Linked DNA regions of Homo sapiens: region 1 is linked to region 2. Evidence: fine-mapped expression QTL. A gene starts in region 2. The other region holds a variant in brackets. All regions are shown on one strand. Distances are between the middles of the regions. Region 1 overlaps TTC31 (tetratricopeptide repeat domain 31). Region 2 holds the start of M1AP (meiosis 1 associated protein).

Evidence for each region. PIP is the estimated chance that this variant, and not a neighbour inherited with it, causes the effect.
Region 1: its variant is the best candidate, but not a certain one, in a credible set for the expression of M1AP in whole blood (INTERVAL, PIP 0.80).

What each region holds. Positions count from the first base shown.
Region 1 is chr2:74,490,075-74,495,445 of GRCh38, forward strand. TTC31 (tetratricopeptide repeat domain 31) reads left to right here. Exons shown (of 13, transcript NM_022492.6): 3 at 1-53; 4 at 170-399; 5 at 582-665; 6 at 1,054-1,110; 7 at 1,221-1,301; 8 at 1,407-1,598; 9 at 1,930-1,981; 10 at 2,065-2,155; 11 at 2,230-2,371; 12 at 2,572-2,673; 13 at 2,848-4,485. The coding sequence ends at 3,144. Among named protein-coding and RNA genes, the nearest start is that of LBX2, 6.8 kb to the right of the region's middle. The variant C/G (reference allele first, on the strand shown) is at 2,801.
Region 2 is chr2:74,645,771-74,651,141 of GRCh38, forward strand. M1AP (meiosis 1 associated protein) reads right to left here and starts at 2,560. Exons shown (of 11, transcript NM_001321739.2): 1 at 2,495-2,560.

The sequences.
Region 1 (5,371 bases), 160 kb before region 2:
GCACCGGATCCATGTGGATGGGAGCAGCGGGCGGCTGCAGCTGTGGCACCATGGTGGGGAGTGCAGGGACCGGGCCCAGGGATCGAGGCTGGTACCCTGGGAGGGCTGACCCTCAGATGCACCCCGCTCTCATGTCCTTTCTTTCCTGTCTCTTTCTCCCTCCTGACAGATTACCTCCTGGGCCACTTGGATGATGAAGGGAAATCAACTGGACAGAGTGACAGGGGCAAGGGGGCTGAGGGACTGGGCACCTACTGTGGTCTCCGCAAGTCCTTCCTGTATCCTCCCCAAGAGTCTGAGCCCTGCCCTCAAAGCCCCTCTGCCTCTGCCACCTTCCCCAGTGTCTCAGACAGCCTGCTTCAGGTGGCCATGCCCCAGAAGCTCCTGGTGACAGAAGAGGTGAGATTCTCAGGAGAGGGCTTTGCCGTCCCCCAGGGTTCTTTCAATCCCTGTATCCCCATCCCTATATTCTCCCCTAATTGGTACCTTTCAAGATCCTTCTATACTGCCTGCCCCCTTTCATGTTTGCTCTCCATTTCCCTGTTTCTCTCTTTTTCTGTCACCTGCCCTTCGTCCTTCAGGAAGCCAATCGCCTGGCTGAGGAGCTGGTGGCTGAGGAGGAGCGCATGAAACAGAAAGCAGAGAAAAAGCGACTCAAGAAGAAGGTGGCTAGAGCATGGCTGGAGGGTGCAGGGGAGCCAAAGGGATTTGGGAGAGGGAAAGAGGAAACTTTGTGGGAACAGGAGAGAGCTCAAGATGGCCTGCAGTGGACTCTCTTGCCAGGAGGACACAAGGGGCCCAGGGACTGGGGGGTCTCTCACAGGCCATCTGGTGCAGTGGTTCTGGAATCCTACTGTGCTGCCTAGGTAGGAATCTGCCTCCTTACATGAGGCCTCTTGCTGGTGCCTCTCTTGTCTGCTTTTTCACCTGCAAAATGAGGATAATAATGATGCCTGTCTCATAGAGCTGCAAAGATGGAATGCGAAATCTTAGCCCAGCACACGACATACAGTAAGTGTTCAAAATACATCATTGTTACCATTACTATTGCAGCGTCAAAAGGAACGGAAGCGACAGGAGCGTTTGGAGCAGTACTGTGGGGAGCCCAAGGTGAGTATCTAGGGCAGGTACTAAGAGCACCAAGTGCCAGGAAGGTGAGGGCCAAGAAAGCAGGCAGCTCAAGGTGATCCCAACTCTGTACCTGTCTATCTTTCTTCCAGGCCAGCACTACCTCAGATGGAGATGAGAGCCCCCCATCCAGCCCTGGAAACCCAGTTCAGGGACAGTGTGGTGAAGAAGAGGTGAGAGCCCCTTTTTTCCCTTCTTGGTCTCTGCTCATTTTCCTCCTCCTCCTCCAGAATGTACTTCATCCCCACCCCCTCCCTAACTTTCCATTTTGTTCACAGGACTCACTGGATCTATCTAGCACTTTTGTGTCTCTGGCTTTGCGCAAGGTTGGGGATTGGCCCCTCAGTGCCCGCAGAGAGAAGGGACTGAACCAGGAGCCCCAAGGCAGGGGTCTGGCCCTCCAGAAGATGGGTCAAGAGGAAGAGAGCCCTCCAAGAGAGGAGAGGCCCCAGCAGAGTCCAAAGGTACAGGTGAGGTGGCTGAAGAACCTTATTCAGCTGGAACCGTGGAAGGGGCACAAGGAGCTGCTGGGGAGGCACAGGGTCTAAGGATTGACACAGGGTCCAGTGGGAGTTCTCTGGCTCTAGGGTCAAGAGACCTACAGTCAGGCCCCATCACTGTCACCATGACCCCGGGTGGTTTCCTGTCTAGGAAGATAGGGCTGATACCATCTTGTAGGGCTGTCATGAGGATTACATGAGTTGGGTAATGCTAATTGCAGTGTTACCTGTTTAAACAAAGGAGAAGGATTTGGGGAGGCTGAGACCTCAAGACCTGCTTGACTTTGCACCCTATCCCCAGGCATCTCCGGGACTGCTGGCAGCTGCCTTACAACAGAGCCAGGAACTGGCAAGTGAGATCCTTTCTCTCTCCGTCCTCACCCCACCCTCCCTGGGGTAGCCCCATCTGAACCTTCTCACCCTCTTTCCTTTCCAGAGTTGGGTACCAGCTTTGCTCAAAATGGTTTCTACCATGAGGCCGTGGTCCTCTTCACCCAGGCCTTGAAGCTCAACCCCCAGGACCACCGGTAGGTGGGGGCTTGGCCAGGGCAGGGCAGAGTGTTGAGGACTCAGACCTTTGGCCACCTTCTGTCTTTATCAGGTTATTTGGAAATCGTTCCTTCTGCCATGAGCGGTTGGGTCAGCCAGCGTGGGCCCTGGCTGATGCCCAGGTGGCCCTTACCCTACGGCCTGGCTGGCCCCGGGGCCTCTTCCGCCTGGGCAAGGCCTTGATGGGACTACAGGTAATAGGTCTGGGGCTGGAAACAGGAGAGATTTGAGTGGGATGGAGTGGGGAGAGGGTCTATGTTGACTTTCTAGATAAGCTTCTAGTACCAAAGTGTCACAATGGTTGTGGTACTAGGAGCAGGGGCCAGTTTTAGAAAGGGTACTTTTAAGCACCTTGACACCTAATCTTTTCTTTCTGATCCCTCTGGGACCAAAGCGCTTCAGAGAGGCAGCTGCTGTGTTTCAGGAAACTCTGAGAGGTGGGTCCCAGCCTGACGCAGCCCGAGAGCTCCGCTCTTGCCTTCTCCACCTCACACTGGTAAGGGGGCCAGGCACACTGTCATGCTGAGGCGGGTATCAGGGAGAATTGGCTGGGACTGCAATACCAAGCCTCAGGTGGCTAAGGAGGGGGCGGGGAAGGATGGGTGGAATGAGAGGCATGGGCT[C/G]TCCTGCTTAAAAGAAGGATCTGGTGCCCTTCTCTCTCCCTTCTCAGCAGGGTCAGCGAGGAGGAATCTGTGCACCACCTCTGTCACCTGGGGCCCTCCAGCCACTTCCCCATGCTGAGCTGGCACCCTCAGGCCTACCTTCCCTCAGGTGCCCTCGAAGCACTGCTTTGAGGTCCCCTGGCCTGTCTCCACTCTTGCATTATCCTTCATGTCACCGAAGCCACCCCAACCAGCCCCTCTCCCAGACTCAGAGTAGAAGGCCCCATCCTCTCAAGCCCCAGGACCCTTCAAAGGGCTGGGACATCCTGGGACTTGGGCTCCAGCATCTGTCTCAGGCCAGATGAGGGGGCACCGGTCCCTCATAGGGCAGGGCCATGTATATATCCCTTGGTGGGGGACATAGTGTGGTGACAGTTCACTGCATATTTTGAGACCTTATTCTCTAGATCCATAGTTAATGATGCCCTGGCAGTCATTCCTCTTGCCATGGGGAAGCTTCTGATGAGAGAAAGGAGCCCCACATCCACTGAAACATCCTTTGGTTCTCAAGCTTCTTCTGGAGGCAGTAAGGAAAAATAAAACCCACCAAGGCTCAAGAAGGGAACTATAGAAAAGTTCAGGTTTTTAGGCTATAGCAGAGACAGTGAGAAAGCATCTGGGCCTTTCTCTTCCTCTTGGTCCAGGGGACCTCATTCACCAACTAGAGCTTGGTGTACAGGAACGGGGTCACAGTGCTGAGGGGGCTTGAGTCCCACCTTTCAGCTTGATGGATGCTCACCTCTTCTCAGCCCCAGCTCGTGCCCTGTTTTTCTAGCCATAGCCCCCAGATTACTCACAGCTCCTCATGCCATTTCCTGTCCAGATTGCTATGTATGACTCTGACCTCTCTTGTCCAGTGGTCTGGTGCTCACCTCCTCTCACTGCTAGAATATTCACCAAGGGTTTGCATTTGGGAAGTCCCTTACCAGCTCCTGCTTAGAGCTGGTAGGGCCATACATGTCCACACTCCCAACTGGTGGCTCTCCCGCTGAATGGGGCCTCAGCAGGTGCCCAAGCTGCTACAACCTTGGCCACTCTGTTTCTCCACCCCAGCACTGGGCATGGTAATTAGCCTTTCCCCATGTTAATTTATTCAGTTTTTTCAAGGGTCAACTGAATTCCCCACTTCCTGGGTAAGAAGCATGATCTCCTTTTAATTTCACGTCTAAGATCCTGGCAGCTTCCCCTAGCTGGTTCCTCTGTAGTCCTGCTGGGACTGTCAGCTCATTTAAATGTGGGTCTGCAGAAGGCTTTAGGTCTCCCCCAACCCCCTTACCTTTCACAGAGGAACCTTTCATCAGGATAAATGATTATTGCTGCCCTGTGGGTCTTGCTCAATACTGTTCATACCTGGAGAGAGAAGGTATTGAAACATCTCCTTTATGTGTGACTTTCCCAAATTTTTAAAAATTGTTTATGGTTTAGGCCCCTTAAATACTGTGTAGCAGGATGAAGTCTACCATTACCAGCTGGGTCACCTTGGATGGGTCTGTCAACATCTAAGCCTCAGTTCCCTCACCTGTAAAAATGAGGGTAGTCCCTACCTCATAAGGGATATTGTGAGGATGGAAAGCGAAAGTGTGAGAAAATACCTCCCAAGTGCCTGGTACATAGTGGGTGCTAAATAAACCACTTTTTGTCTGCAACTGTCCTACATAGTCATGCTTCCCACAATAGGAAGAGAGGAGTGTGGGTGAATTGGTGCTGAAATTCACAAAATCCAGAGTTCTGGGACTGGATTCTCAAAGTGTGCTTTCTAGGCTAGCAGCATCAGCATCATCCAGGAACTTACTAGAAATGCAATTTCTCAGGCTGGGCACGGTGGCTCACGCCTGTAATCTCAGCACTTTGGGAGGCCAAGATGGGTGGATCACCTGAGGTCAGGAGTTTGAGACCAGCCTGACCAACATGGAGAAACGCCTCCTCTGCTAAAAATACAAAATTAGCCAGGTGTGGTGTCACATGCCTGTAATCCCAGCTACTCGGGAGGCTGAGGCAGGAGAATCGCTTGAACCTGGGAGGCGGAGGTTGCGGTGAGCCGAGATTGCGCCATTGCATTCCAGCCTGGGTAACGAGCAAAACTCTCAAAAAAAAAAAAAAAAGAAATGCAATTTCTCAGGCCCCCTGCAGTGACCTACATCAGAAACCATGGGAGCAGGGCCCAGCAATTTGTGTTTCAATAAACCTACCAAGTGATCCTGATACACACTGTTCAAGGGCGGGGCTTAGCGGAGCAGACCTCCATCCAGAGGCCATTTTGGTGGGACAGGTTTGAGTTTTGTTGTCCAAGTCTTCAGTATAAGAGGTGGCAGTGCTAGCTGGGCTAGAATTTGGGAAACCTCAATGGGGAGAGAGGTTATGACTCAGCCAGTTAATTTGACTGGACCCTACCTTCCTAACTAGAAGGATTTGCCCTGAGAGTTCTTTGCTCACCCCTGGTTGGGGAGCAGGATGGGCATAGGTGGTTGTGTTTGTCCAAGGGGTGATTATATTACAGTGGTTCCATAAGAGGCCTGCCCATCTGGCTTTCCT
Region 2 (5,371 bases):
TACCTCTGCTGCTGCTGTACACTGCTGCTTTAATAAAAGTTGCTGTTTAACATCACCAGCTCACCCTTGAAAAAAATAAAAATAAAAAAATAAAGTAGAGGCAGTCCTCATTTTGCATGGTTCAAGTATATAGATTTCAGTTACTACAGTTTAGTTAATTAACACTAGTCTTCCAACAACACAGTTCAAATTTCAGTTACCATGGAATATTAACTGTAATTACATAAAGTAGTATCTAGCTCTTTAGTTCACGAATTACTAGTTATCAGTATCAATAGTATAGTATACTGATATAGCGTACTGATATAATATAGTGATCAGTGCATCATGATCAGTAATTAATTATATCACTTCTTTCAAAGTCTGTTGGTGACCCGTCACTGCAGATCCATTAGTCAGTTAAAGCACAGACAGAAGTGTGTAGTTGTGTCGCCTCCTTGTCTCCTAGTGATAAGCCCATGTGATGTTTTATAAAAACAAAAACTGAAAGAGGAAACTAGCCGATAAAAGGAGCAGCAAAGAAATAAAAAATGATAATGCCAGGAGTGAAATCTGAATCTAACATAAGTGGAGTTAAAGGAGAAACAGCTGACTATGAGAGTGTTGACACTGCCTCCACCTGATAGACTCTAGAGAAGCAGCCAGAGGAATTTAGTGAAGGCAAACTTATCAACATACTTGAGGAAAGTCATTGTGATGAAAAGGATGAAGACATCCTACAGAAAGGGCCACTGGCAAAAAGCTTCATTATTAAAGAAACTTTCAGAGATATTTTACAAAATTGAAGGTACAAAGGATAAAATGTAGGAAACTAACCCAAACTTAGAAAGAAGTATGTCAGTTTGCCAAGACACACAAAAAATGTTTGCTCTCTCATAAGTTTTACTATGAGAGTTTTTTTTCAACAAATAAAACACTTTAGCTCTCAATGTTTCTAATGTTTTAAGTTAGTGTATGAAATAGTTTTACTGTTTTACATTTCCCTATACAGTTAGTAAGAAAGTTTTAGTGTTTTGACAATTTTTCAAGGTTATAGAACAACTGTAATTTTTCCCATTGGTGTTTAAGATCTCTTTGAATGGTTTCAGCTTGCAGTCATTTTTCAATCCCACACTAATGTGCAATTGGAAGACTGTATTTTAAATGAGGTAAGAGGCAGCTCTCTTCCTTACATCCTCAAACATCATCAATTCATGCATCTGATGTGTCTGGGCATAGTACTAAACAGGCTCTGACCTTATTCTGACCCTATACTCTCCACTTTTGCCAAGAACACTCGCTTAATGAATTCTCCCTGCAAACTGGTTAAAACTGGAACTGGGCCTTGAACCACTCCAAACCACCAAGTTATGCCCAAACTAAAAACCCTCCAAGGACTTCCAATTACACCACTGGAAACAGAATCCAATATCTTTACCCTGGCCCTAAAGTTCTGCTTGTGCCTTCTGCCCAACTCTCCATCCTCACACTAGGCCCTCCCCTGCCCGCACCCCGGGAGATCCACCTCTCACAGATCGGCTTCTCGCTGTGTCTGCCTCTGCGGATGTTCTGTTCCGTGCTGAGCATTCTAGGTTAGGGCCCCTTTACAAGCCCTCATTCACTTTGTCGCGTGATAAACGATTCAATGGTTCTCCCTCTGGCAGGGCCCTATTAAAGATTTCGTGGGCCCTAAGGCACTTTCGTCTTCGTGGACCCCTTCCTCCATTAAAAAAAGATTAAAAGAAGTTAATGGATTTTGTAGGCCCTAAAAATCTCATTTCCCCCTCCTGATGTGAGAAAAAAATCAAAACACTTTCTTTGACTTCATGGGTTCACTTTAAACGAAATGAAAACATTCTCGTGGCCGGGCACGGTGGCTCACGCCTGTAATCGCAGCACTTTAGGAGGCCGAGGCGGGCGGATCACGAGGTCAGGAGTTCGAGAGCAGCCTGGCCAACATAGGGAAACCATGTCTCTACTAAAAATATAAAAAAATTAGCCAGGCGTGGTGGCGGGAGCCTGTAATTCCAGCTTACTCGAGAAGCTGAGGCGGAGAATCACTTGAACCCGGGAGGCGGAGGTTGCAGTGAGCCGAGATCACGCCATTGCACTCCAGCTTGGGCAACAAGGGTGAAACTCCGTCTCAAAAACAAAGCAAAACCAGAAGAAAAAAAATTCTCGTGGCTCCCTGAAGCCTCCGTGGTCCCTCGGCATGGCGCCTACCGTGCCTGGCGGATCAGCAGCCCGGCCCTCGGGCCTGGGGGCCCCGCGGAGGAAGCTCCGGGCCCAGACTCCGCGCAGGCCTGGCCGCCCAGAACAGTATGCGGAGGGATGACTCCGACAGCGATTTCGGAGCCTCTCTCGGCGTCAGTCTTGCGCCGGCACCCGCCACGGCCAGCGCAACCAACACCTGCCTGAGGACTGGCCCGAGCTCGGCCCACGCCCAGCCCAGCCTGCGAAGTGGTGCCGGCTGCTCTCGGGCTGCCCTCCCTCCCCGAGGCGTGGAGAACCGTACCTGTCTTCGGAAGACGGAGGCCCCCTCACCTGGTCCTCCCGGCTCTCAGCGTGCGCCCGCGCGTTCGGAGGCGCCCCCCTCAGGCCGGCGCGGCTGGGCGGGAGGCTCACTGCGGGCAAGGCGGGGCCTGGCTGCCTCAGGGTGCGCTTCAGGTGGCGCTTCAGGAAAACGGTCTCCAAGTCCCTAGATACCCTGAGAACAGTCCTTCTTTGTCCCTTAGGTAGAATTTTGTCTATTTGTTGGAAATGCTGTGCTAAACCTGACATTTTTCTTTTTCTACCCCTTCCCATGAAACATGCCAGTAGCTCCCCCACCGACCGTTTTCTTGGTTTTAACTTTTCCCTTCCACATCATTTCCTTCAGCCAGTCGCTATTTTGTTCACTAAACATCTGTGGTGGGCACGTTATGTGCCACGCATTGTGCTAGGATTGGAGTACAGTGGATGTACAGACAATGGTCACTGCCCTCATGGAAGTTATAGCTGCCTTCACAAAGTTCTTTTAAGTCTTTTCAAACTCCTGTATTCCAAGAGGGTCTGTCGCTCTCTTCATACTCATTCTCGCTTACTTGAGGTTGATTCCCATAGTCCCTTTGACGAACTCCAGATGGGGTAGGAGCGTCCTGGTCCTTAACAGTTGGTTGGTCTGGGTCTTCAACTCTGGTTAAAAAGGAATTCTCTGAATTAGTCCACAGGAGAGGGAAAGATAATGCTAGTTCCAAGCTAGAAATGTACAAGCAGTTTTCCTTGTTTTCTTTATTATTATTATTGTTATTTTCTCAGTTCATTGTCTAGATGCAGGTTGGAGGTGGGGTGGGGCAATATTTCAATGAGTGGCACAGGATAGGTTAGATGTTTCAACAGGAAAAGAGTTGCCTGCTTGTATTCTAGTCCCACTAAACCATTTTGCTCCTATCAACTGTTCCTCAGGTAAGAACAGAACTATTTAACCTATGTCCTTTTTTAAACACTATAATCTGATATTCAATAGAGTTCCTGTGTTTCAGTTTAAAGGGTAGCTTCTCAACAGCTCTTTCCCCCCATATAGTCCAAATTAGCCTTTCTGTCTCTAATCTCCAGATTATCGTTTCCACTGATGTTAGAATTGTCCTTGTAAAAATATTTTGATCATATCATTCTTTGTCTTAAAAATGGCTTATGTTTCCTTTTCGGTTAGAGGGTCCATTATAACTGACCCCACCTACCTTACTAGGCTCAACCCCAGCATTACCTGTCTTACTCCCCTTTGTGTTGCTATACCAGAATACCACAGAACAACTAACTTGTAAATAAAGGAAATGTATTCTTAAATTCTGGAGGGTAGGAATTCCAAGGTTGAGAATCCCACATCTAGTGAGGGCATTTTTTCTGTGTCATCCCATGGCAGAAGGCAGAAGGGCAAGGGGTACAAAAGAGCAAGACAGCAATAGGGAGCTGAACTCACTTTTACAACAAACCCACTCTCTCAATAACTAACTCATTTCCAAGATAATGACATTAATTCATTTATGGGGGCAGAGCCCTTATGGCCTAATCACCTCTTGTTAGGCCCCACCTCTGAACACTATTCCATTGGGTACTAAGTTTCCAGCAAATGAACTTTGGGGGACGCATTCAAACTTGAGCACTAGCCTCACTCCAAACCATACCACCCATTGCTCCTACCTACTATTAATTTCTTTCCGTACCCTCTATAGCATTTATTAAAAATATGCAAAGAACTGTACCAGAAATGGGGACTATGACATAAGAATTGTTTTCTGAGGGTGATAAACTATAATGGTCATGAGAAAGCACCTTGCAGACTTTAAACTACAAGGAGTGTAACTGACCAAGGGCATCAGCTGCTGCCTTAGAAATCTACTGCCACGACTGGGCTCCGTGGTTCACGCCTGTAATCCCAGCACTTTGGGAGGCCGAGGCGGGTGGATCACCTGAGGTCAGGAGTTCGAGACCAGCCTGACCAACATGGAGAAACCCCATCTCTACTAAAAATCCAAAATTAGCCGGGCATGGTGGTGCATGCCTGTAATCCCAGCTACTCGGAAGGCTGAGGCAGGAGAAACACTTGAACCCGGGAGGCAGAGGTTGCGGTGAGCCAAGATTGCACCACTGCATTCCAGCCTGGGCAACAAGAGCAAAAACTCTGTCTCAAAAAAAAAAAAAGAAAGAAAAAAGAAATCTGCCACATTTGCATGGAGGCCATCTTCCCAGCCACTGACTGAATGTGGTGGAGATACTAAGGCAGACCCATTCCTGGGAAACACTGCACTTCTCACACAGCACTCCTCACACAGCACTCCTCTAATGGGCAACATTGGCTTGATGATTCCCCAACAGTCTTGCTGAACTATACTCCAGTATGGAGTATAGTATGTGGAAGAGGAGTGTCAAAGATGAAGCAGGAGAGATAGGCAAAGGGCCAGAACATATACGATCTGTGGACTATATTAAAGATTTCGGATCTTATCTCATAGCAAAGGCGGGGTGGGCTGGAATGGGGAGATAAACTGAAGTGTTTAAGCAGAAGAGTGACATGATCTGATTTGTGTACTGGAGAGAACATTCTCCCTGCCTCCCTGCCTTAAAAGGAATGGATTGGGGGCTGAAATTGGGGTGGTGGCAGCAGGGCATAGGGACAAGACAAGAGTAGGAAGGAGCCCAGGCAAGAGAAGATAGTTGTTTGAATTAGGGTATTGGCAGAGGGGATGCGGAGATGTGGGAGGAAGTATTTAGGAGTTAAAATTAACAGGCCTTTATGATTGATTTGATTAAGAGGAATCCAAAATGACAGGGCCTAGAACATAGTAGGCATTCAATGAATACTTATTGAATAAACAAATGCAAAGTCTCTGGCTTAGACAGCTGGAAAGACAGT